Linked DNA regions of Homo sapiens: all the other regions are linked to region 1. The links come from fine-mapping of genetic effects on plasma protein levels. Region 1 holds a variant in brackets. A gene starts in each other region. All regions are shown on their forward strands.

Evidence for each region. PIP is the chance, under the fine-mapping model, that this variant and not a neighbour inherited with it causes the effect. Protein levels are from antibody-based Olink assays in UK Biobank. Linkage for the fine-mapping came from a reference panel and not from the study's own genotypes, which makes the PIPs less certain.
Region 2: CSPG4 starts here. The variant in region 1 is fine-mapped to the plasma level of the CSPG4 protein (UK Biobank, PIP above 0.99).
Region 3: it holds the start of CD248, and the variant in region 1 is fine-mapped to the plasma level of the CD248 protein (UK Biobank, PIP above 0.99).
Region 4: it holds the start of CBLIF, and the variant in region 1 is fine-mapped to the plasma level of the CBLIF protein (UK Biobank, PIP above 0.99).
Region 5: it holds the start of LTBP2, and the variant in region 1 is fine-mapped to the plasma level of the LTBP2 protein (UK Biobank, PIP above 0.99).

What each region holds. Positions count from the first base shown.
Region 1 is chr1:109,925,469-109,930,056 of GRCh38, forward strand. CSF1 (colony stimulating factor 1) reads left to right here. Exons shown (of 9, transcript NM_000757.6): 9 at 3,384-4,588. Among named protein-coding and RNA genes, the nearest start is that of CSF1, 17 kb to the left of the region's middle. The variant G/A (reference allele first, on the strand shown) is at 2,674.
Region 2 is chr15:75,711,023-75,715,610 of GRCh38, forward strand. CSPG4 (chondroitin sulfate proteoglycan 4) reads right to left here and starts at 1,826. Exons shown (of 10, transcript NM_001897.5): 1 at 1,646-1,826. The coding sequence starts at 1,733.
Region 3 is chr11:66,314,756-66,319,343 of GRCh38, forward strand. CD248 (CD248 molecule) reads right to left here and starts at 2,289. Exons shown (of 1, transcript NM_020404.3): 1 at 1-2,289. The coding sequence starts at 2,272. RefSeq lists enhancers at 1,038-1,734, 4,291-4,588 and a silencer at 2,218-2,487.
Region 4 is chr11:59,842,818-59,847,405 of GRCh38, forward strand. It overlaps CBLIF (cobalamin binding intrinsic factor), which reads right to left and starts at 2,682. Exons shown (of 9, transcript NM_005142.3): 1 at 2,558-2,682; 2 at 1,062-1,238; 3 at 211-324. The coding sequence starts at 2,636.
Region 5 is chr14:74,610,826-74,615,413 of GRCh38, forward strand. It overlaps LTBP2 (latent transforming growth factor beta binding protein 2), which reads right to left and starts at 1,412. Exons shown (of 36, transcript NM_000428.3): 1 at 626-1,412. The coding sequence starts at 1,119. It overlaps LOC101928352 (a long non-coding RNA gene), which reads left to right and starts at 2,360. Exons shown (of 2, transcript XR_944029.4): 1 at 2,360-2,470; 2 at 2,742-3,223. RefSeq lists an enhancer at 1,468-2,095 and a silencer at 1,723-2,042.

The DNA.
Region 1 (4,588 bases):
TGTGACCTCAGAGCAACTAAACCCCCCTTTTTCAAATGTGGCCTTTATAAGGTCTTTACCCTCCTGGAGAATCTTCAGTAGCTCTGTGTGGCAGCCACTGCAAGCCCTATATTCTTGGCTTGGCTGCCAAGCCCCTTCGACAGCAGCTGCTTGCCAGATCGCCACCCCCGCACCAGTTAACCCTCCTCCCCAGCTGAGGTCAGTTCTGCTTCCTTGCTTTTAGGATCATGTTGACATAGAACCTGAGTCTTGGAAGGGCTCTCAGGGGTCATTTGGCCCTGGTTCCCACCCCAAAGGGACTGCCCCTCTCCATGTCCCCAACAGGGAGCCAGCCAGCTGGCTGTCACACACTCCCAGATCCAGCCCAGCTCCCTGCCTAGCCACAGCCCATGCCATCTTCCAGTCAGACTGGGAGAAACGTCTTCCTCATGCGAGGCAAAACTGGCTTCCCTGCCCCCTCCATACTGCTCCTCCCTCCTGTTCTCATGAAAACCCTCAGATATTTCAAGTCAGGTATCCATGTCCCCTTTGAGAATTCTCTAAGCTAAGTATGGCCAAGTCCCTCAAACGTTCCTTATATGATATGGTTTTCAGACCCCTCACCATCCTGGACACACTCGTTTGTCAATGTCCCTCTGAAAATGTGACGCCCAGCCCCGGACACAGTACTCCAGATGTTGTCTGACCAGCTCAGAGAGAGTACAGTGGGACTGTTACCTTCCTTGATATGGACAGTATTCTTCTATTTGTGCAGATTAAGATTGCATTAGTTTTTTTCTTAACAACTGCATCATACTGTTGTCATATGTTGAGCCTGTGGTCTATTAAAACCCCTAGTTCCATTTCCCATAAACTTCTGTCAAGCCAGACCATCTCTACCCTGTACTTGGACAACTTAACTTTTTTAACCAAAGTGCAGTTTATGTTCACCTTTGTTAAAGCCACCTTGTTGGTTTCTGCCCATCACCTGAACCTACTGAAGTTGTGTGAAATCCTAATTCTGTCATCTCCGTAGCCCTCCCAGTTGTGCCTCCTGCACATTGATGAGTGCCTGCTGTTGTCTTTGCCCATGTTGTTGATGTAGCTGTGACCCTATTGTTCCTCACCCCTGCCCCCCGCCAACCCCAGCTGGCCCACCTCTTCCCCCTCCCACCCAAGCCCACAGCCAGCCCATCAGGAAGCCTTCCTGGCTTCTCCACAACCTTCTGACTGCTCTTTTCAGTCATGCTCCTCCTGCTCTTTTGTATTTGGCTAATAGTATATCAATTTGCACTTATTTGGATGTTGTTTTCATATTTTTTAAAATCTTATTTTATATGTATTGTACATTCCACATCCCTAAGATTGTAAGCCCCTTGAGGGCAGGGACTGTCTTCCACTTTTTTTTGTGTTTCTTTTTCCATCCTGGGTTCTACTAAGAGAGGGCCTCTCCACATTTGCCAAACATGCAATAAATGTTGACTGACTGGCTTCAGGGCTGACTCACGGACTGACCCTGGCCAGCTGTCTCTAACTGACCAGCCTCTAGCTGACCAGTTAACCAGCTAACTGACTGACTCTGACTGACTGGCTGACCAGCTGGCTGGGTGAATGACTAACCAACCAACTATCTTGGTAACTGCCTAACTGACCAGCTGTTGCTTGGGGAGCCCATTGAGCAACTGACTAGCTGATTGCCTGACTAATTGGCTGGTTGGCTGACTAGCTGGGGTGACCCAGTCAAGTTTCCAGTCACATCCTTTACCAAGTGCAAGCCAGTGCCGCAGGGCTCTCCCATGTGTGGAGTGACAGGTCTGGGCCCCTTCTAGAGAGATAGGGAATTTGGCAAATGCTCAAAACCAGGGGAACCTATTTAGACAAGAACCAGCAGTAACAACATATCTGGAATCCTGGGGTCTACCTTGTCAGTGGGGTGGGCTAAGATGGGTGAGTGGGTCAGCTGGGGCACTGGCAAGACTGTGAAATGACCCAGGCCTCCTCAGAACTGGTTGCTGGTGGCTCAGTGCCACAACACCCTTCCCACGGGTCGTCTGTCCCCAAACCCCTCGCCGTGGTCTTGGCCCTCTGTCCCACCCCTCTACACGCCCACCCTCCTTTCCCCACTTGCTTATTCTCAGGCCCGTCCCAAGCTTTCCTCTTCCCCCTCAAGATTTCACTTGGAGAGGGAATCCAGGGCAGGGGCTACATCCAGATCCCACTTGGCCCGGCAGGTCCAGCCCTAAGGTGGTCTCCAGGCCAGGCACCAGTGGCCTTGGAGAGATTGAGTGCCAGCCCCTAGAGTGACTGCTGCTGTGATTTGAGAAGTGAGAGAGAGAAACATAGAGGCAGAGACTGAGATAGGGACTCAGAGCCACAGAAAATGCAGACACCAGCACCTCAGCCCTAAGCAGCTAGAAGATGGGGCAGCAGGCTGGAACTCGCTCACTGGGTCCTTCTCCCCTCCTGGGCCCTAGCTGGGCCTGTGGCCTGGCTGTACCCAGCATGGCTCATGTCCAGTTTATGGTTCCCCTTCTTTCCCTCTAGAGCATGGGAATGGGCAGGGAGCCAGAGGCTGTGGTTCCATCTTCCCTCCTTACCCAGTAGGGCCTATGGATGTTAGGGAGGGAGGCTCCACACAAGGTCCAAAGTCAAACTGTTGGATGGGGTCCAGGGGATTTCTGCTCTGGGAACAAA[G/A]CGTCCTGAGGATGCTGGGCAAGAGGACAAGGATGGGGGTGGAAGGCGAGAGGACAAGGCCCTGACTCCCATGGATGATGCGGGAGGCAAGGCCCTCGGCCCATCCAGGAGGGGCTGGGTTGCTTAGGGGTCGCGTGCCAAATGACAGTGTGGGAATTTCCTTGTCCTGGCACTGCCTCTAGACTTTTCCTCTCTGGCCCAAGTTGTTCCTCTTCAGCTAGCTCTGCCCTACTGTCTTGAACATCATATGTGATGCCCCTCTGATGAAATGAAAGATTCTTCTTTGCTAGTGTTAGCAGGAATCACCCTTTGTTCACTGGACCAAGGCCAATGAGATGACCTCGCCTGAGGAGGGGTCCAAAGACATTCAAGTGCCCGCTTCGCTCCTTGTCAGAGCCCTCTGCTTGAGCAGTAACCCCTCTTCCCAGCCCTGCCCAGACCTCTCCCGGGCCCCGTTATCTTCCACTGAGGCCCTGATTCCCCAGGAGGAGGTAGGAGGTGAGGCCAGTTGGGCCAGAGGCCTGGGCTGGTGCCAGAGAAAGCTGCCTGGTCTCTCTGTGGTGTCTGGAAAGGCCAGGGAAGGGAGGAAAGGAAGTCCTGCCTGCAGCACCGCCAGCAGCCCACAGGAATGCCACACCTCCCAATCCATGTCCTCAACGACCCTCCCCGCATTCCCACTCTGCTGACTAGCCTTTCCTTCTCTCCCACAGCTGGACGCACAGAACAGTCTCTCCGTGGGAGGAGACATTATGGGGCGTCCACCACCACCCCTCCCTGGCCATCCTCCTGGAATGTGGTCTGCCCTCCACCAGAGCTCCTGCCTGCCAGGACTGGACCAGAGCAGCCAGGCTGGGGCCCCTCTGTCTCAACCCGCAGACCCTTGACTGAATGAGAGAGGCCAGAGGATGCTCCCCATGCTGCCACTATTTATTGTGAGCCCTGGAGGCTCCCATGTGCTTGAGGAAGGCTGGTGAGCCCGGCTCAGGACCCTCTTCCCTCAGGGGCTGCACCCTCCTCTCACTCCCTTCCATGCCGGAACCCAGGCCAGGGACCCACCGGCCTGTGGTTTGTGGGAAAGCAGGGTGGACGCTGAGGAGTGAAAGAACCCTGCACCCAGAGGGCCTGCCTGGTGCCAAGGTATCCCAGCCTGGACAGGCATGGACCTGTCTCCAGAGAGAGGAGCCTGAAGTTCGTGGGGCGGGACAGCGTCGGCCTGATTTCCCGTAAAGGTGTGCAGCCTGAGAGACGGGAAGAGGAGGCCTCTGGACCTGCTGGTCTGCACTGACAGCCTGAAGGGTCTACACCCTCGGCTCACCTAAGTGCCCTGTGCTGGTTGCCAGGCGCAGAGGGGAGGCCAGCCCTGCCCTCAGGACCTGCCTGACCTGCCAGTGATGCCAAGAGGGGGATCAAGCACTGGCCTCTGCCCCTCCTCCTTCCAGCACCTGCCAGAGCTTCTCCAGGAGGCCAAGCAGAGGCTCCCCTCATGAAGGAAGCCATTGCACTGTGAACACTGTACCTGCCTGCTGAACAGCCTGCCCCCGTCCATCCATGAGCCAGCATCCGTCCGTCCTCCACTCTCCAGCCTCTCCCCAGCCTCCTGCACTGAGCTGGCCTCACCAGTCGACTGAGGGAGCCCCTCAGCCCTGACCTTCTCCTGACCTGGCCTTTGACTCCCCGGAGTGGAGTGGGGTGGGAGAACCTCCTGGGCCGCCAGCCAGAGCCGGTCTTTAGGCTGTGTTGTTCGCCCAGGTTTCTGCATCTTGCACTTTGACATTCCCAAGAGGGAAGGGACTAGTGGGAGAGAGCAAGGGAGGGGAGGGCACAGACAGAGAGGCTACAGGGCGAGCTCTGACTGAAGATGGGCCTTTGAAATATAGGTATGCACCTGAGGTTGGGGGAGGGTCTGCACTCCCAA
Region 2 (4,588 bases), not on the chromosome of region 1:
CTCGAAATACGCCTCCCAGCCAGGCTGCTGGCCTTCCTGTCTCAACACCCCTCTGCTTACGCCCACCTTGGTGCCTCTGAGTCAGCGCCCCTGCCTGGAGGACTGACTCCCTTCCCATCCACCAAGGCTTGGTTTGAGGCCCACCCTGTGTCCTGCCCCAGCTTGCCCCTGCTTTTCTCCCCTCTGTACTTTTCATCCAGATTTTTGCTGTTTGAGATTTAATTTGCCTTTCTGCCTCCTGAATGAGTCTCAGTTCAGCCTCTCAATTTCCCGTGCCCCTGCGAGCCTAGCACCATGCCTGCATGCTGTCAGGGCTAAGAAGGTATTTGAGAATGGCTCTCAGTTGAAGCCCAAGGAGGTGGGGGTACTGGAATCCCTCCTTGGCTGGAGGCTGGGGCCTGAATGAGCTGACCACCCTGGTCACCTTGGATGCTCCCTTCCCATCTCCCTGGCGGCCCAGCCCATCCCTCAGGCCCTGAGATCTTAGGGGATCTGGTCCCTGCAGGAACAGGGAGCCTGGAGATCCAGCCCTGATTCACCCCGCGGGGGTCCTCCCTTGACTCACTTCCCTTCTGGGAACCATGTGATGCCCTCTTTTAGAGCTGGCTTCTCCATCTGAAGGAGAGAAGGGTGTGGCCTGGGCCCTTGTGAAGGAGGCTCAGGCCCTGCCTTTGCTCCATGTTGCTCTTGGGAATGATCTCGAAGGTGTAGCTGAAGCACTGAATCACACGTGGGTAGTGATGATGGATGGGCCCTAAGGCCACAGTTCTTATGGCATAACTAGAGCTGCCTTCGCTGAAGGAAGAATGCTGTCATGTTGGGGTTTCTGGCATCGGGACAGAGAGGGGATATATCCCAGCACTTCTCGGAAAGCGAACTTCCATTCAGCCTCTGCTGGGTCAGGCATCAGTGCTGGGATGAGGAGGTGTGGCAGGGGGTGGTCCAGAGCTATCTGTAGGACAAGCCCCGCTGAGGGGCACCAGCTCTCCCTCTAGGAGGCTGAGAGTGGGTAGTGGGTGGGGGGTCCTGCCTGTCACCAACAGGAGGAGGGAGAGGAGAGAATGAAGAGGGGAGGTGGCAGATAGACGGATCTGCAAGGAAGCAAGGGGAGGAAAGAAGGGGCAGAGCTGGGGGGCAGCTGGAGGGGTGTGGGGGTGCTCCTCACAGGGGAGGGCAGGGTGGCTCATTCCTCGTTTCCCACCTTGTAGCACTCCCCATTCCTGGCCCAGGGCATCTGAAGCTGGAGGACCCACTTCTCACTGTCGCCGGGTCCCTTTGGACCCCAACATACTCACCCCAAACTTGCCTGGCAAACAAAGCTCGGCCAGCATTGGGGTGGCCCCACTGGTGTCTCAGACAATCCAAACGGGCAAAGCCACGCCCTAGGCAATCCATGCCTGGGGCGCCTGCTCCCGCCCCTAACTGGACAGCCTTGGCTAGCTAGAAACCCCATAACCTGAGATAGCGGGGTCCCGTGTCCGCCCCAGGATTGAACCCCTGGCGACCCCAGCTAGTGGTGGGAGAAGCGCAGCCTGCTTGACTCCCGATCTGGGGGCCACTTCTGGCTCCTCCTGTCCCTTTTCCCTCCCGGAGGAACCCCTCTAGTTCCGCCAGGCTGGGTCGGGGTCTCAGGCCCCTCACTCACCCGCGGATGCAAGTCTGGCCAACATAGTCAGGGTCAAAGCCAAGGCCAGGCCGGGGGCTGGAAGTGGGGGCCGCGGCCCGGACTGCATCCCGGCGGGCTGGGCGGCAGGACTTGCGAGGAGCCAGCGGAGTCCTGGGAGCTGGGAGCTGAGTGGAGCGAGCGCGGCTCTGCTCCTGGGCGCGGGCCGGCTCCGGGTGTCCGCGCACTTAACTCCGGGGGCGGGGCAGGCGCAGACCCGCGCGCCCGCTCGGGTTTCAGGCTTGGACTCCCCCACCTGCCCCCACCCTCAACCTTCTTAAAGGGCCCGTGCGGGGCTGTTCCTCTCTGGGGCAGGGGTGAGGGGGCCCTTGCAGCTGGGCCAGACCCCAGCCCCACCCTAAAGACTTAGAACAAAGTCATAGAGAGGCCCAGACACCCTGAACTCTGGCCCCAAGAGCCGAGCCCGGGAGACCCCCTCAGGGAGGAGGCATGAACTGTCCCAGCCCCTACTTCCCTCCTTTCTGCCTTTGCGGGAGTTCAGGAGACCCCTCCACAGGCACACTCCAGCCTTAGGAGGAAGGACAGACACCAGCCACCCTCACAGGCGGCTTTTGGGCTGCTTTGCCTCGGAGGTCCCCTAGGAACTTCTCCAGACTCCAGAGGCACCACCCGAGGTCCTGTGGGGCACTGCCCATGGCTGCAACAGTGACCTTCTCTGCCTGGAAGGGCCTCACCTCAGTCTCCCTGTCTGTAAGGGAGAGATGTCTGGATTTCCTCGCAGGGCAGAAGAATTCTCAGTCCCGCCATGACATTTGCCTCAAAATAACCTTGCAAGGTGGGTGAGGAGCATCCCCTCCCCCATTTCATGGAGGACGAAAGTGCAGCTCAAGCTGAAAGTGGCTCTTACAAGACTCCAGGTGGAAAGTAGGTCCCTGGCCGTTTGGTGCCAGAAGCCCAGGCCTCCTGACCCCTGAATCCGGGTGTTTCAACTTCCCGAGGCTGCCTCCTGGAAATCTGGCCCTGGATTTGGCTTCTACCTAACAGCTTCAGGCTGGGGCCCTTCTGCTGGCTCCCTTCCAGGCAGCAACATCAGCCTAGTCCCAAACAGGAGGAGAAAGGGCAATGTTACTTAGCTTCCGGTGCCTAGAGGATCTGCGTGTTCTCTGTCCAGTCCCAATGTTACCGGGCCTTGGTTTACTTCCTCCATTCAGGTCCCTCCATCTATCTGCTCCAGCCCATCTCCAGCCCAACCCCACCTTGCACCCTCTTCCCAGCTCTTCCCTTTGACCAGTAACAGCCCAGCACTTCATACTTTGCAACGAAACTGAGACCTGTTTTGCAGATGAAGAAACTGAGGCTGAGAGAGATTAAGGGACTGGAGCTAGTCTACATAGCTGCTGAGATGTGGGGCCAGGTCTTTGACCCTAAGTGCAGTGCTCAGGTGTGATGGTGCCTGGTCCATGTGGGGGTTATGAGTATTGGTCTTGAAACCAGAGAGACCTGGGTTCAAATCCCAGCTCCCTTACTTGGTTGTCAAACCTTGAACAAGTCCCCTCACCTCTCTGTGGCAGTTTCCTCATTTGTAAAATTGGGTTAATGAGGATTAAATGCTTTAATGTACCTCAAGTCCCTAGCCCAGGGCCTGGCATACGGTAGGTGCTCAATAAATGCTTATCCTTTCTCCTCCGTCTCTGTCATCCTGCACATTCCCTGTGATTCATGGTTTACATACAGCTTTACACATATCACCTCCCTTGTTGTAAAGCTTGAACTTTCTCCTCCAGAGGCTGCTGCATACAGTAGGTGTACAATAAATGCCTGCTGTAGTTGACTAAGAAACCAATTGCTGCTGTTCTGTAGGGATTTTGGCAAACCTAAGAGCTTCCATCCAGGTGCCCTAGGAGGCCTGGGATGGAGGCTGTGCTAGGCTGGCCTCAGTGGCGGTAAAGGCATTGATTCCACAATTTGTCCCTTGTTTTTTTTTTTTTTTTTTTTGAGACAGAGTCTCGCTCTGTTGCCCAGGCTGGAGTGTAATGGCGCGATCTCGGCTCACTGCAACCTCTGCCTCCCGGGTTCAAGCGATTCTCCTGCCTCAGCCTCCTGAGTAGCTGGGATTGCAGGTGTGCACCACCATGCCTGGCTAATTTTTGTATTTTTAGTAGAGATGGGGTTTCACCATGTTGACCAGGCTGGTCTTGAACTCCTGACCTCGTGATCTGCCCGCCTCAGCCTCCCAAAGTGCTGGGATTACAGGTGTGAGCCACCGCGCCCGGCTGTCCCTTGTTTTTCCTTCTCCTCAAGTCGGTAGGACACCTGGTCCTCATTAGGGGCTAATTACTGACAAGCTATGGGGCTGGGGGTGGGGGTGCTGCTTGGAAGACTGTGTTTGGAGGAAAAGAGCTTTCTTTTCAGGAATGAAAAAATAAGACAGAAGGCTTTTTGCTCTATGAATCAAAAATCTGGGTGAAGATCTCTGCTGGCCCCATCTCCCCCCCCCACCCCCTCCCCATCTTCCCTGCTCCCCACCTACACAGATGTCTGTGGAGCCTCCAGACAGGGTGCTCCCACCCACAGCTGAGATTCAAGTCTGGATTAGCTGGGAGCCTCCCCCTGCCTTGTTGCTAGCTGGGCAGAGAAACACAGGCCTGGAAAATAATGGCAACCAGCACAGCGGTAATAACCCGGCTGGCGCATCTCTGCTGGGGCTTCCCAGTTTACAAAAAACATTCACTTGGTCTCTTGACAACTTTGGGAAGCGTATGTGTTGGCCAACTGTGTCCCTGCTTCCAGATGAGGAAACTGAGGCTCTCAGTGGAAAAGGGATGCTGCGGCTCCAGCGCACACAGGCCTGGCCTTTGCTCAGCCGTAACCTAGGGCTGGAACTCCGGACCAATGCTGAGCAGCATCATGCCAGGCAGACTGGCAGAAAGTCGAGGTCCCTGTGTGCCTTTGGAACTGACCCCT
Region 3 (4,588 bases), not on the chromosome of region 1:
ACACGCTGGTTCTGCAGGTCTGCACCCCTGTGAGGCTGCCCCTGGGGGGCATGGGTTCTGTTGGGCTCTTGCTCCCAGCATGGATGACCCAGCGATAGCAGTCAGTGATGCGCTTGTTGGGTGCATGGGGGCCACAGCGGGTGCAGTACACGATGCCCAGTGCAAGCAGGACCACCAAAAAGACACACGTTGGCACCAGGAGTGCCACCAGCAGCCACCGGTCATCCCTCTGGCTGTGCTCGGCAAGACCAGCCTCCCCCAGGGCTGTTGGGGCTGCTGTGGGAGCTGGTGAGGGCAGCCACAGGGCCAACTTGGGACTGGGGCCATCTTCCCTTGGGATTTGGGGGGCTTTGGAATGGGGATGTGTAGGGCTGATGGGTGAGGTCTGGTTAGTGGGGCTCTGAGAGGGCAGGAGGGTGGGGAGGGCTGCGGGCTGGGTGGCAGCAGGCACAGAGATTTGATGGGCAGGAGACACAGGGGACCTGGAGGTGGTGGTCAGAGAGGGCTGGGCAGTTGGGATAATGGGAAGCTGGGTGGCCTGGGTTCTGAGGACAAGGGCATCTGGGGCTTGAGGGGGTAGCTGGGCACCGAGGGTGGTGACCAGAGGGGCATGGTTAGGTGGGATTCCAGGCAAATGAGTGGTGGTCTGGGTGCCAGCGACCCGGGTGTCTGGAAACATGGGGGACTGGTGGGCAGGGAAGAGCTCCGGATATTTGGTTGAGATCATAGGGGGCTGGTGGGCAGGAGGCTGTGCTGAATGAGAGACAGAGAGAATACCGGGTTGGTAGGCAGAAGGCAGATCTGGATAGTTGGCTGCGATCACGGGGATCTGGTGGTCACGGGACAAAGCTGGGTGTGTGGCAGGGATCACAGGAGGCTGGTGGGCAGAAGGCAGTGTGGGATGCGTGGCAGAGACCACCACAGGCCGGGTGACGGAGAGCACTGAGGAGTGGTAGGGGACCCTGGGGGCACTGAGCGGGGGTGGCCAGGTGGGCTCCGGGTAGGGTATCTGTGGCTCTCTGTCCTCTGGGAAGCTCGGTCTATAGGCCAGGGCAAAGTCAGGCGGCTGCGTAGGCTCCATCCACAGGATCCCAGGCATCTCCGTCCAGCCACCGTTGAAGGCCTTCCAGGCCTCGTCTTCATCTTCCTCATCCTCCCCGTCATCCAGCAACTCATCTCCGAGGTCCTGGGAAGCCTGGGCACCCATGGCCCCTGCAGGGCTGCAGCTGATGCCATCAGCCTCCAGCTCATGTCCCTCGCTACAATAACACTCGAAGCCACCAACGTAGTTGACACACATCTGCTGGCACACACCGGCAATCTGGCACTCATCTGTGTCCACACAGCGGTGCGGATCATCCTCCGCTGGCCGGAAACCCAGGCGACAGTGGCAGCTGTAGCCTTGTGGCCCACCGGGCTCACACTGCTGCTCGCACGGAGCCTGGGCACAGGGGTCCTCGCAACTGCGCCCGTCTGCTGCCAGCCGGAAGCCCTCAGTGCAGCGGCAGGACACGTGACCATCCACCTCCTCCACACATTCGTGTTCGCAGCCCCCGTTGTCAGGGCTGCAGCCAGTCCCCAGGCACAGGGGCCCAGCCCGTGACCAGCCCACACCTCCCTCAGGCTGCTTCACGCAGAGCAGAGAGGCTCCCCTGCCAGCCTGGCACTGCACAGCGGCCACAGAGCCGAAGGGCAGCCACTCAAACTCTGTGGAGACCAGGTGGAAGGGCGTGGTATACACGGCTGGGCCGGCCTGGCCCGCCTCATCTTGCAGCGCCGGGCAGGCGCCCTCGAAGCCAAACTGGCACAGGTAGCCGTCGACAGCCAGCGTGCACGAGCCCTCCAGCCAGCGGTGCTCGCCACTTGCCTCCAGGGCCACACAGCGCTGGGCCGGGCAGGGGCCTCCAGAGGCTGGCTGGGCCCAGTTGGTGAAAGCCGTGTCCTGGTCCCCTGTGGTCCACGTGAAGCCGCGCAGTGGGCGCTGCAGCTGGCATTGCCGGGCCTGCCGCTGCAGCCCGATCCACAGCAGCCGGCTGGCTGGGCCCGCACCCACCAGGCTGTCCACACGCTGGGCCTCCTCGGGGGTCCGAGGAGTGGCCAGGTCGCCCCCCAGCTCGCGGCAGGCCCGCCAGGCCTCCAGGAAGGTGCGGCGCCGTGGGAAGAGAGCGTAGCAGCTGCTGGGGCCGCAGGCGGCACGGGGCTCAGCAGCCCAGGGGTCCTGGCCCAGTGTGGGCCCTGCGGCCGCCCAGGCCAGCAACAGGCGCAGCAGCATCGCGATGCCCCCGGACTGGTCCGGCCCCGGGCTGGCGGCAGCTCTTGACAGGGGGAGGGCCTGGGGCCTCCTGCGGGCGGGCCGGGGGCGGGCCTGGGGCCGGGCTCAGGCCTTGTAAGGAGTGGGCTGGGGCGGCTGCCAGCTCCCTGCTCCCTCTTCCCCGGGGGCCGCTAGAGCAGGAAGCAGTGGGGTGGGGGGCTCTAAGGTTGGGGGCGGAGGAGGGGAGAAGGCGCAGTTGACGGCTGCCCCAGGCCCCATGGGGCTGAGAGTCAGGGGGTGGGAAAAGCCTGCCTGCCGAGCTCTGTGACCCTCAAGTTGGGGCTCGGGGCTGTGGGGTGAGGTCGCTTCCCAGAGACTCAGAGACCCAAATCTGGACACAGCAGCCCCATCACACCCGGGAGCAGTCTCAGCCCAGCTGCTCGCCATGCACGGGAACACCCTCATGCCCACTCCTTTCTTGCCCCACAGACGCGCGCATGCGCCTCCCCCACCCCCAACCCCATGCAAGAGTGCACTCTCTGCCAAGCTGTTTGTCCCTTCACCTCACCGTGGACCTATGCTGGCTTGCAGATGACTCCCTTGCCACACGTACACACATTCTGACATGCTGAGACCCTAGGTGCACATACAAAAATGGTGTGGCATTCTACATGGCCTGACATATGAAGACCTCCGATTCGGCCTGAATGGAAACAGCTTGGTCACCCAGGCACAGGCATCCTCAGCCTCTCATTTATTTACTGAGCCCCTGCGTCAGCCTCTCCCCCTATACTCAAGCTTTCTGGTTCCAGCTGGGCCAGCGTGTGGGGGTGTTGGGGGAGTGAGGGGGCCAGGGGCTGCCCTCCCCTCACCCCAGCTCAGCCTGGGGCCCTGGGAACCTGGGCTTAGAGGGGGAGGAGGCAGCCCCTAAACAGGAAATGCCTCTCTGGGCTCCTGCGTCAGGAAGGCAGGGTGCGTGGTTTAGGGGGCTGGGTGGGGGCTGGGCTGCACGCAGGATGTGGAAGGCTGTGAGGGGACCCATGCAAGGCCATGTATGGGCATGGGGCACACAGTGACATATATGTGTATATGTGACACAGGCATCACGTGTGTGGAGCCCTCCCTGCCCCCGGGGCCTGCTGTTTCGGCCTGGCCAGGGTCCTCTTCCCGCCCTTCCTGGAGGCCTCTGGAGGCATGTGCACTGAGCCCATCATCCAGGATGGCCTCTGGGGAGCTGGCTGGCGGATTAACCCATGCACACCCGCTGCACTCTTAGCAGAAGTTAGAAACAGTGTGGGGAGGTGGGGGAGAGGTTCCGCCCTTCAGTAAACTGCCCTGATGCAGCTTCCCCCTCTGCCACAGATGGATCGACTTTGTGACTGCAGGGGAGTCACTGGCCCTCTCTGGGTCTCCTTTTTTCTCAGTTGCAACATGAGGGCAATGAGTCCAGGATTTTTAGCTCAGCAGGGCTGAGATATTGCGTCACAGCGCTCAGTGTTTGCAAATGTGCTTTGTCAGCTGTGGAGCCTGAAGCAAATGTTCCTGTCTTCTGAGCATATGTGGTGGGTGGAGACCAGGGTGCGTTTTTGCAAACCACCTTACAGTGCCTAGGCTGGCCCTGCAGACCCAGCCAGCCCCTCGAGAACCAGGGCTTAGGAAGTTCTTGCCATATGCCTGGAAGTTCCTTCTTACAAGGTCTATACATGTGAAGCACACAGAATGACTCCCCTTCTCAGGAGACAAAAGTCAAGATGGAGGAGTTCATCCTTCTGTTGGCTCAGGCCCCAAACCTTGAGGTCATGCTTGACTCCTCTCTTTCTCCCACAGCCCACATCCAGTCTCTCAGCAAATCCTGTTGGCTTCACTTTCAAAAGAGATCCAGAATCTGACCACTCCTGGACACCTTCTTTGCCACCCACCCCCGGCCCAGGTGGCTAGCAACGCCAATCTAGATTTCCCCAACAGCCTCTCCCGTGGTGTCTCTCTTGCCCTCTCCATCCTGCCAGAGGGATCCTTTCAAAATCCAAGTCAGATCTGATCACTTCTCCATTCAGAACCCTCTGAGCCCCCCATCTCGCTTAGAGGAAGGGCCACAGTCCTTGCCATGGCCTCCTGGTCTATGTCATCTGCCTCCAAACTCTGGCCTCATTGCTGTTCCTTAAATGCTCCAGACACTCTGCCTCACAGCCTTGGTCTTGGCTGTTCCTGCTGCCTGGAATGCTCTTCCTCCAATATAAAAATGCTCTGCTTCTTTACCTTCTCCAGGGCTCAGCTCAAGTACCAGAGTCCTTGACCATCTCACCCCACCCCACACCGCCCCCTGGGGCTCCTTGACCA
Region 4 (4,588 bases), not on the chromosome of region 1:
TGTGTCCTTGGGATCATGACCTTTTCTAGTTCATTTTGGATTGGAAATGAATCTTTCTGGTCTGGATTATCAGAAGGACCAGAGTGAAGGATACATTGTCTCTTCCCTAACTTGCCTTTCTCTCCACCCCCACCCTTTTCCTTTCTGGGTTTAAAATTCTTAGGTAAAACCATATGCCTGACTCTTTTCTCCCTTCCAGTCAGGTCTTACTGGAAGGTGCCCAGTTCTCCATTTGTCTTTGTAGAATGGATACTTTATCCCCAGGGTCTCGGCAGGAGGAGGTGAGGGCCATGATGGTGAGGCCGAGCTGCCCAATGGTTAGATCTGCAGAGAAGAGAACACAACGGTTAGACAGAGACATCCTCAGGGGACAGCTCTCCAGGAGCCAGTGATGAGTTCTCTGCTTTTTATCTAGAGCATTTTGACTTTTTAATAATATGAGCAGTTCTTTGATCTGTCTTTCCAAAGAAAAAAATATGGAAGAATACGTAAGGGAATATTTAATCTAGTGGCCTCTGTGTAACTTGATGACTCTAGTATTTGGTATTTGAGAATCCCTGGTATTTGATTAGAAAAGCAGCAAAATACTCATATAGATTTATATACAGAAATTTACAGTTGCAAAATAATTTAAACTTTATCTAACTTGAGCCTGCAGGCAGCTCCTGGGAGATAGGCAGAACAGAGATTTTATTATTATTATCATTGCTATTAGTAGTAGTAGGGTTATTGTTACTACAATCATCTGCAAGGTGAGGCTGAGCAGTATCCAGTGACTTGTCTCAGATCCCAGAGTTATGACGTGGCAGAGCCAGAACCAGAAGGCTGCTCTTTCGACGTCTAGTCCAGAGCTCTCCCTGCTTTACTGACCTCCTCCATGAATGCTCTGACTTCACACATGTTTCTTTCCAGGTACCTTCCAGGTATGTAAGGAAAGGTGTTTGGGTAGTTTATTTACAGTCAGAGGCAGCATTGGGGTGGGAAGGACGCTGAGTTGGAATCTGGAGGTGGTATGTGATGTGTGAGATTCAGGGAGAGTGCGAGCGGCTCAGATGTCTCACCGTTGTTGTCGCTGGACATGAGCTGGTAAGTCAGGAGCTTCTGGGCCTTCAAGTTGTAGGCTCCGGCCAGATTCATGGCAATCAGGATGCTGGGGTTTGGGTAGGCTGATGAAGTCACCGAGTTCTCCATGAGTACTTGTATTCCATTGACCAAGGGCTCCTGTGCTGAGGGAACGGCTGAGAAGAGGAAAGCCATTTACTCACCTTCTAACCCTCATTCCTTCTCAAAAACATTATCCCCGTGTCTTTGATGCTTTTTCTTTCTTTCTTTTTTTTTTGAGACAGTGTTACTCTTGTTGCCCAGGCTAGAGTGCAATGGCACGATCTCGGCTCACTGCAAACTCTGCCTCCCAGGTTCAAGTGATTCTCCTGCCTCAGCTTCCTGAGTAGCTGGGATTACAGGTGTGCACCACCACGCCAGGCTAATTTTTGTATTTTTAGTAGAGATGGGGTTTCACCATGTTGGCCAGGGTAGTCTCGAATTTCTGACCTCAGGTAATCCACCCTTCTTGGCCTCCCAAAGTGCTGGGATTACAGGCGTGAGCCACCTCGCCTGGCCATCTTTGATGCCTTTTAGGAGAACACTTGATTAGCATTAGTGTCCTAAGTCACTAAAGAGAAATGGAGAAAATGGTGAGATTTTACTTTTGAGGACAATTAGTTTCTACATCTTCTCAAATAATCCATATCCTTAAGAAAGTGATTTTTAAATTTAGTAACTTCAAGCAATATGGCTCATGACATTTCTCATAGTTTCTATCACTTTCCTGGAAATCACTGATTTCCTTGCATTCATTTTTTTCCTTACTCTTTCATGAAGAGTATTAAAGATTTGGGATATAATTTATCCTCAGTGAGTACCAAAATCTCTCACTAGTATGTAGTGGTGTCTGGTCACAATAGCCACTGAGTGTCTGTCTTTGTACCATCAACCATTATTCCTGCAGTAGTACTTCCATCTCTATTATTTTTATTTATTGATTTTTTGAGACAGGGTGCTGCTGTGTCATCTAGGCTGGAGTGCAGTGGTGTGATTATAGCTCACTGCAGCCTCGACCTCCTGGGCTCAAGCGATTCTCCTACCTCAGCTTTCTGAGTAGCTGGGACCACAGGTGCATGCCACTGCGCCCAGCTAATTTTTTATTTTTATTTATTTATTTTTTTTGTAGAGATGGAGTCTCACCATGTTGCCCAGGCTGGTCTTGAACTCTTGGGCTCAAGCAATCCTCCTGCTTCAGTCTCCCAAAGTGCTGGGATTACAGGTGTGAGCCACTGCACCTGGCCCCATCTCTCTTAATAAAAAACATATAGACTTGTCTCTCAAAGAACTTATGCTATTAAGTCAGGAAGGATGAACAGCACACAATCACACTCAGACTTACCCATTTTGGAATTCCTATAGTGATTGCTATTTTCAACCACTCAGTGTCAGAGGTCACAGCCCCTTCCCCAGGGCAACTGCTTCCCTGACCTCCTTGGAAAAACATCATACTCACAGCATGAACTCTGGGTCTGGGTACTAGTCCCAGCTGTAGCCCAGAGAAGGCTCAGGAGGTAGAGGGCAAACCAGGCCATCTCACTCTCTCGTCTATGTCTCTCATCCACAGGTACCGCGATTTGCAAGTGGAATATTTCTTTACCTTCTCTTATATGTGCTTCCCTTTGTTAAATAATCTGTCCCCAACCCAGCCTCTCCTAACTGCCCCTGTGCTGACCTCTCCTTTCCTGATACAAGTAAGTAAATTTTCATTTGCTTATCTAAGTTTACCGACTATAGACCCTCCAAGGTGTCTGAAGGTGACTTCTAGGTTGCACAGTCATATGAGAAACCTGGGGCTGGGTATGCAGTGAAGGCAATGTTGAGAAAATGTCCTTTACCAAAGGCCTGGGTCAGACATCAGGAAGTTTGGATAATGTGCTAGTATCAACAAGACCTCTTCTAGCCCTTATTGTATCCAATCAGTTACCAGGCTGCTTTTTAGTAACTACTTCACTGGGATTTAGGCCATTCATAGGCATCAGCTCATTTTATGATCCTAGACACCTGCTTTACAACATGTCCTTTTAGGCTCTCAGGCAGGGATCTGCCAGGTGACATCTGGCTTTGTGAAATTAATGATGTCTACCTGGACCTGGATTCTAGCCTAGACTCTTTGAAGTTGTTTGACTTTAGGCAAGAAATGGACCTCGGTTTCCCAGAAATGGTTTTGTTTGATTTCTCTTTCCTTATCTGGAGATAAAAGCCATCTCAAACACCCAAAGCTTTCAGATATTATCTTTTAAAGTAAGTAATTAGAAAATGTGAGATCCATTAAGAATACATATTTCAGATGTGTAGCTACATTATAATGCAAATTATACTTCTTTATAAGGGAGAACTGAAAATGGTATGTTGAAATTATAAAGAAAGGAGTTTTGTTTGTTTTTTTCCTGCATGTAAAGTAGCTCATTTTAAGGGGATATTCTCCAGTGGCGCCCATCTTAGCATAAAAGTCAAAGCCCTTTTCATGACCTATAAGACCTTAGAAGATCTGGCTCCTGGTTTCCTTTCTGACCTCAGCTCCAGGCGTTTTCCCCTTTGCTCACACCGCTCCCATCACACAGAACTTCTTGTGCCCCTTGAACACATCAGCTACCTTTGCACATGATGTCCCCCTCAGCCCAGGACCCTCTTCTTTTAAATAGCCTCATGGTGGCTTCCTCACATCCTTCATGTCTCTGCTCAGAGGTAAGCTTTTAGAGACGCCTTCCCAGGCCACCCTACATAAGATCCTACATCCTCACCTCCACTGACACCCCTCATGCCCCTCGCCTGCTATAACTCATTGCCCTCTGTCGCACTAAGTGTGTGGTTGTTTATCGTTTGTTTATCTCCCTACTAGAATGTCTGCTCCACGAGGGAGGGGCTTTGTCTCTTTGGCTCACTGCTCTATCCTTAGCCCTTACAACACTACCTAGCTCACAGTAGAAATAAAATACTTTTTGAATGAGTGAATTAATGAGCAAATGTAAGACATGGGTAATAAAGCATTTTTTCCCCCTTGGGAAACATGGGTGAGTTTTGTGAGATGAGAGCACAGGGTACATACTGGGGTGTGCTGGACAACTTCTAACATGGCCCTGTGTTTTCACCTCCCGGTATTCATGCCTTGTGTAGTCCTCTTCCCTAGAGTGTGGGCTGGCCTGGGGCCACATTCTATTATAATGAATATAATGCAGCAAAGGTGATGGGATGTGGTTGCAAAAGACCGATTTCCCTCTTGCTTGCCTTCTCTCTCTTGCCCTTCCTGCTCTCATGAAGGCAGCTGCTAAGTGTGAGCTGCCTTATGGAGAAGCCCACATATGGCCCCTGAGAGTAGCCTCCAGCCGATATTCAGGGAGAAAAGAACCCTTCCCCAGTGAGCTTTGAGATGAAGGCAGCCCCAGCTGACATCTTGATTGCAGCCCTGGGAGAGACCCTCCTAAGCCAGAGGACCCATGTAAACCCTCCCTGGACTCCTGACCCACAGAAACTGTGGGATAATAAA
Region 5 (4,588 bases), not on the chromosome of region 1:
GCGCCCACTGTGTCGCAGCCTCATCAGGACACGCTTCCCGCCCAAAGTACCCAGAGCTCACGCCCACGCCCGCATCCAGCCCTCAGCGTGCGCAGGCCGACCCACGCCCCACGACACTTGTCCCGACGCACCAGCTTCGCTGCCGGCTCCCCTCCTGGAGACGCATCTACCTTCTCTCCATGGGGCCCCCGACACCTCCGCCAACCCGCGCTCTGAGCCAGCTCAACCTCCCCTGGGCGTCAAGAGCCTGGAGCGCCCACCCTCCTGCCCTCTCCCCGCTGCCTCTCAGATCCCGGCAGCGCTGCAAGAGTCTACAAGAGCTCGTTAGTTGCAGGCAGGAGGAACGCGGGCGAGTGGAGAGGCGCCTTGCGAAAGGATTTAACGTCGGGGCTCCGGGAGAGTTGGTAAGAAAGGATGAGGATGATGATCTATCTGCCTTCAACTCTTCGAAAGCGGATCAAATCTTCCAATCCCGATTTTGGAACCTCGGGGCTGTTTCCCGAAGTACTAAAGACAGAGGGACGAGGGTATGAGAGCGGCGCCCTCTCCTCTCGCCTGCACGCCCCTCCACAAATGAGCCCTGGCTCCCCTCTGTACCCTCCAAACTTCCCTCTCCCATGCTCACCCCGTGAGCCGCCCTCGCGGCGGGGTTGGGGGCGCAGCCCCAGACCGCTGTGGGGTCCCCAGGCGTGGGAGAGCCGGCGCGGCCCGGGTCCGGGGTGCTGGTTGCTGCTGGCCCAGGGGAGTGCTTCTCCGGGTCTGCGCAGGTGGCTGGACACGCCGCGACTGCTGCGCGCGGGACGGCCTCCTGGCCTCCGCCTCGGTGGGCCTCCTGGGGCTCCCCCAGCCCGGCTGGGCCCGCTCCACGGGCTGCAAGCCCGCGACAGGCGCGTCCTGCTCCCGGAACAGACTGTACACCTTGGCTGCAGCCGCTGCCGGGTAGCTGCCCCCAGGGCGCCGCAGTCGATTCGCGTCTCCACCAGCCGGCTCGTATCTCCCTACGGGGTCCCTTTGGGCATGACCCGCGCCCACGAAGAGAGCCAGGGTGAGCGGCAGGAAGCCTCTCCAGGGGTTCCGCAGGGCGCGCCCCGGGCTGCGGGCTTTGGTCCGCGGCCTCATGGCGCGGGGCGGCTGGAGAGTGGTGCGCGCGGGCACCGCGAAGAGCTTTGTGGTCGGCACGCTGGACGCCCGCGGGCTGTTCTCCCGGCCCCGCCCGGCGGCCAGCTTCTCTGAGTCTAGGGGGCCCTGAAGCGGCCGACTGGGGGCCCGGCTCTCGGCGGAACGAGGGCTGCGCGCCCCGAGCCTCGAGTCCGCGCTCCTACTCCAGCTGGGCTCGCACGGCTGCTGCACCTTCGCGCCTCCTCCCTGTGCCTGCAGCCGTCTGAAGGGGACCCGGACGGTTTTATTTTTGGAAACCTCCCCCGGCTTTTTCGTCTCTTTTATCCACACCAGGCCCCCTCCTCGGAGGGACAGCTCAGCCCCCTCATTACCGGAGAGGGAGCGAGGAATTCCAGCAACACCCACTTTGGCACCGGGAAGCCAGCGGGCGGCGAGCGGGCGGCGAGGGGGATTAACCCGTGCGGAGCAGGGGGCGGCGCGGGGCTGACCCAGGCGCTGGTCGGGCAGATGGCGCCTGCCACGACCGGGACACTGGGCCGCCTTTCTCCTGCTCTGGGCAAGTTCGAACTGCAGACCTGCCCCGAATCGTTCTCCCGCCCCTCGCCTCAGGGACCGTCTTTGGATCGGGGGACCCAGGCTGCAGCCTTGCAGGTCTGAAGGAAGCCGGGAGGGGCGCCGAGGCCCGCGTAGGGGAACAGGGCCGCCGCCCCCTCCGCTTGCGCCCTGGCCGCTGGGGGCGCCCTCCGCAGGGCCGGCCGGAGCGGGGGTGGCGCGGGGCGGGGCGCGGCGCGCGGAGCGCAGGGAGGTCCCGGGCGCGCCCCCTGGCGGAGCTGGCGGCCCTGGCGCTCCGTGGCTGCAATGCCCTGGCGCCGCCGCCTTCGCTCTGGATCTCAATCCCCTTCCACTGGCGTGAGGGTCACGCCTGAGCCTGGCGCGGTGATGGCTGCCGGTAGAAGAGGGGTCCTCTTTTTCTTTTTCTTTTTCTTTTCTTTCTTTCTTTCTTTCTTTTTTTTGAGACGGAGTTTCGCTCTTGTTGCCCAGGCTGGAGTGCAATGGTGCGATCTCAGCTCCCCGCAACCTCCGCCTCCCGGGTTCAAGCGATTCCCCTGCCTCAGCCTCCCTAGTAGCTGGGATTACAGGCATGCGCCACCAAGTCTGACTAATTTTGTATATTATTTTATTTTTTAGTACAGACGGGGTTTCTCCATGTTGGTCAGGCTGGTCTCGAACTCCCAACCTCAGGTGATCCGCCCGCCTCGGCCTCCCAAAGTGCTGGGATTAAAGGCGTGAGCCACCACGCCCGGCCAAGGGGTCCTCTTTTTCACCGAGGCAAAGACACGGAGCCTCTTGAGTAAGTCACTCAAGGAGATAGCGCATGTGAAAGAGGGGAGTGGAATCTAGGCCTCCCGCCTCTGGCTGAATCCATTCCCGGGATCCCACCCAGCCCTTCACTCTCTCGGGAATTTCCCAGAGGGGGATTCGGTGACCCCGATTGACCCAGTGTGTGCATTCACATCTTGTGTTAGCAGGGAGGCGGGCAGGGGTGTGGGAATGCTGACTGCCGCTGTCTGCGTGTCCCCAGTAATCAGCACACCATTCTCACCCATGCTCCCTCCCTACAGCCTAAAGGCTTGGATCAACAGGGCTGCCCCTGGCACATTTGTACAGCCTATTTCCCAGAGAGGCAGAGTGAAGGAGCTGGCATGTGGGCACCAGTTCACAACCTCCCACACCACACAAAAGACAAGCCCAGGTAATATCTACTGTTGAAATAAAGCCTCGACCCCTGGCCTTGGCCTACAAACCCTAGCTGGCTGCCCCCGCTCTGATTTCATCTGGCCTCTTGCTCTCCCTTACCCACCACACTGTGCTGCCTTGGCCCTCTCTCTGCTCCTTGAACAAGCCAAGTGAATGCCCCCTTCCCTCTACTGGAAGGTTCCTCTCCAGGATGTTAGAGGGTAGTTCCTCATCACTGCTCCTCTCAGATTAAATATCAGCTCCTGGAGTAGCCATCCCTGACCTCCAATCTAGAGCAGCCCTCCCTCACCCCAGTCATGACTCTAACACACCACCCTGTTTCATCTTCATAAAACAGTTGACATCATCTTGTTATTGATTTGTTTGCTCGTGTAACTGAATTTTTTAATGGGCTGAACCTAAAGAGGGACTATCCAGAAACTGCTCCACTACTACCTTCAACCATATTATGGTAAATTTCCCTTTCCCACCCTTAATGACATCTCAGGCAGAGTCCTTGGCTTGAGAGGTCATCCCTACCAGACACGAGAACTATTCTATTAATATAATTAAGACCCATTTTCAGACACAAAAAGTCTGCTCCTGTCCAGATCAAAATCTCATCCAAGTTAATCAATATCACATCCCATTTAATAGTCCTCCTCTCCCCTGTCCCTTTGCTAGAGATCCTGCAGTGGTGAGAGTGGGGTGTGGTCTGTTTTCCTGACCTCCCTTTTCTGCTGTGGCTCCTCTTTGTCAAGGCTGGGAGAGAGGTGTTAGAGGAAAAGTAGCAAAGTCTTATGTGACAGGTACCCTTGGTTGGCAGGTGCCAAGCGCTGGCTTTTTCATGGGCACATATGTGGGTTTTTGGGAGGTTCTCTACAGGACCTCCACCCTGAGTTGCCATAGCAAATTACTCTCTGGCCAACCTCTCGGAGACCCCTGCATCCTCTGTCTCTCATAGGACTGTCCCACCTATGCCAGGCAAAACAATGGTGGGTTGGCCGCTCCTCACCCTGCCCACTTCTCACCTTGCCACACAGGCCACTCCAGCGAGGCTCCACGATCAGAATTCTCCAGACAGGAAGTGCACACAAGTCTCTTCATTTATGTACGTCCTCAATTCCTAAAGACATATGTTGGGTTCTCCCATGAACTGTCTTGCTGTAGTTTAATGCACCGAGGTGCCTGTAACATCCAGCAACATAGTCAGCATCAGTGGGGGGACAGTTATAGGGACAGAGCCTCCTCTTCTTGCAGATGACTGGTTCTCTCTGGGAGCTCCCTTCATTTGGTTTGAGTTGGGGAGTTCCCTCAGGGGAAATCTCAGCCCTGCCCACAAATGCAGCAGTGTTATGCTTCAGTGACTTTCTTCAATCCCTTTCATTTGTAGACTGGAATTGAGGGATGTAGTTTGATTGCTGTTGAACCTGTTCTGCCTTTAGTAAGGTGTCTAGTACTTCTCTTCAGAATGCAAGAATATTTAGCCCTCATTGTTCTATCTTTGTGGCTTCAGCAGATATTCCAAGAGCAGAGGAAAAGTCCTATTCAACAACCTATAAAATCATTTCTTGTCTGACTTCCCAAACCACAATGACAGCTCTAAAGCAACAGATATCTTGTCTGCGTTGCTCACCACTGTTTCTGCAGAACCTAGAACAGCCAAGAAGTATGTGTGAAATGGATAGCTAACTGAATGAAGGACACAGTAATCCCATCAAGTGGGGAGGGC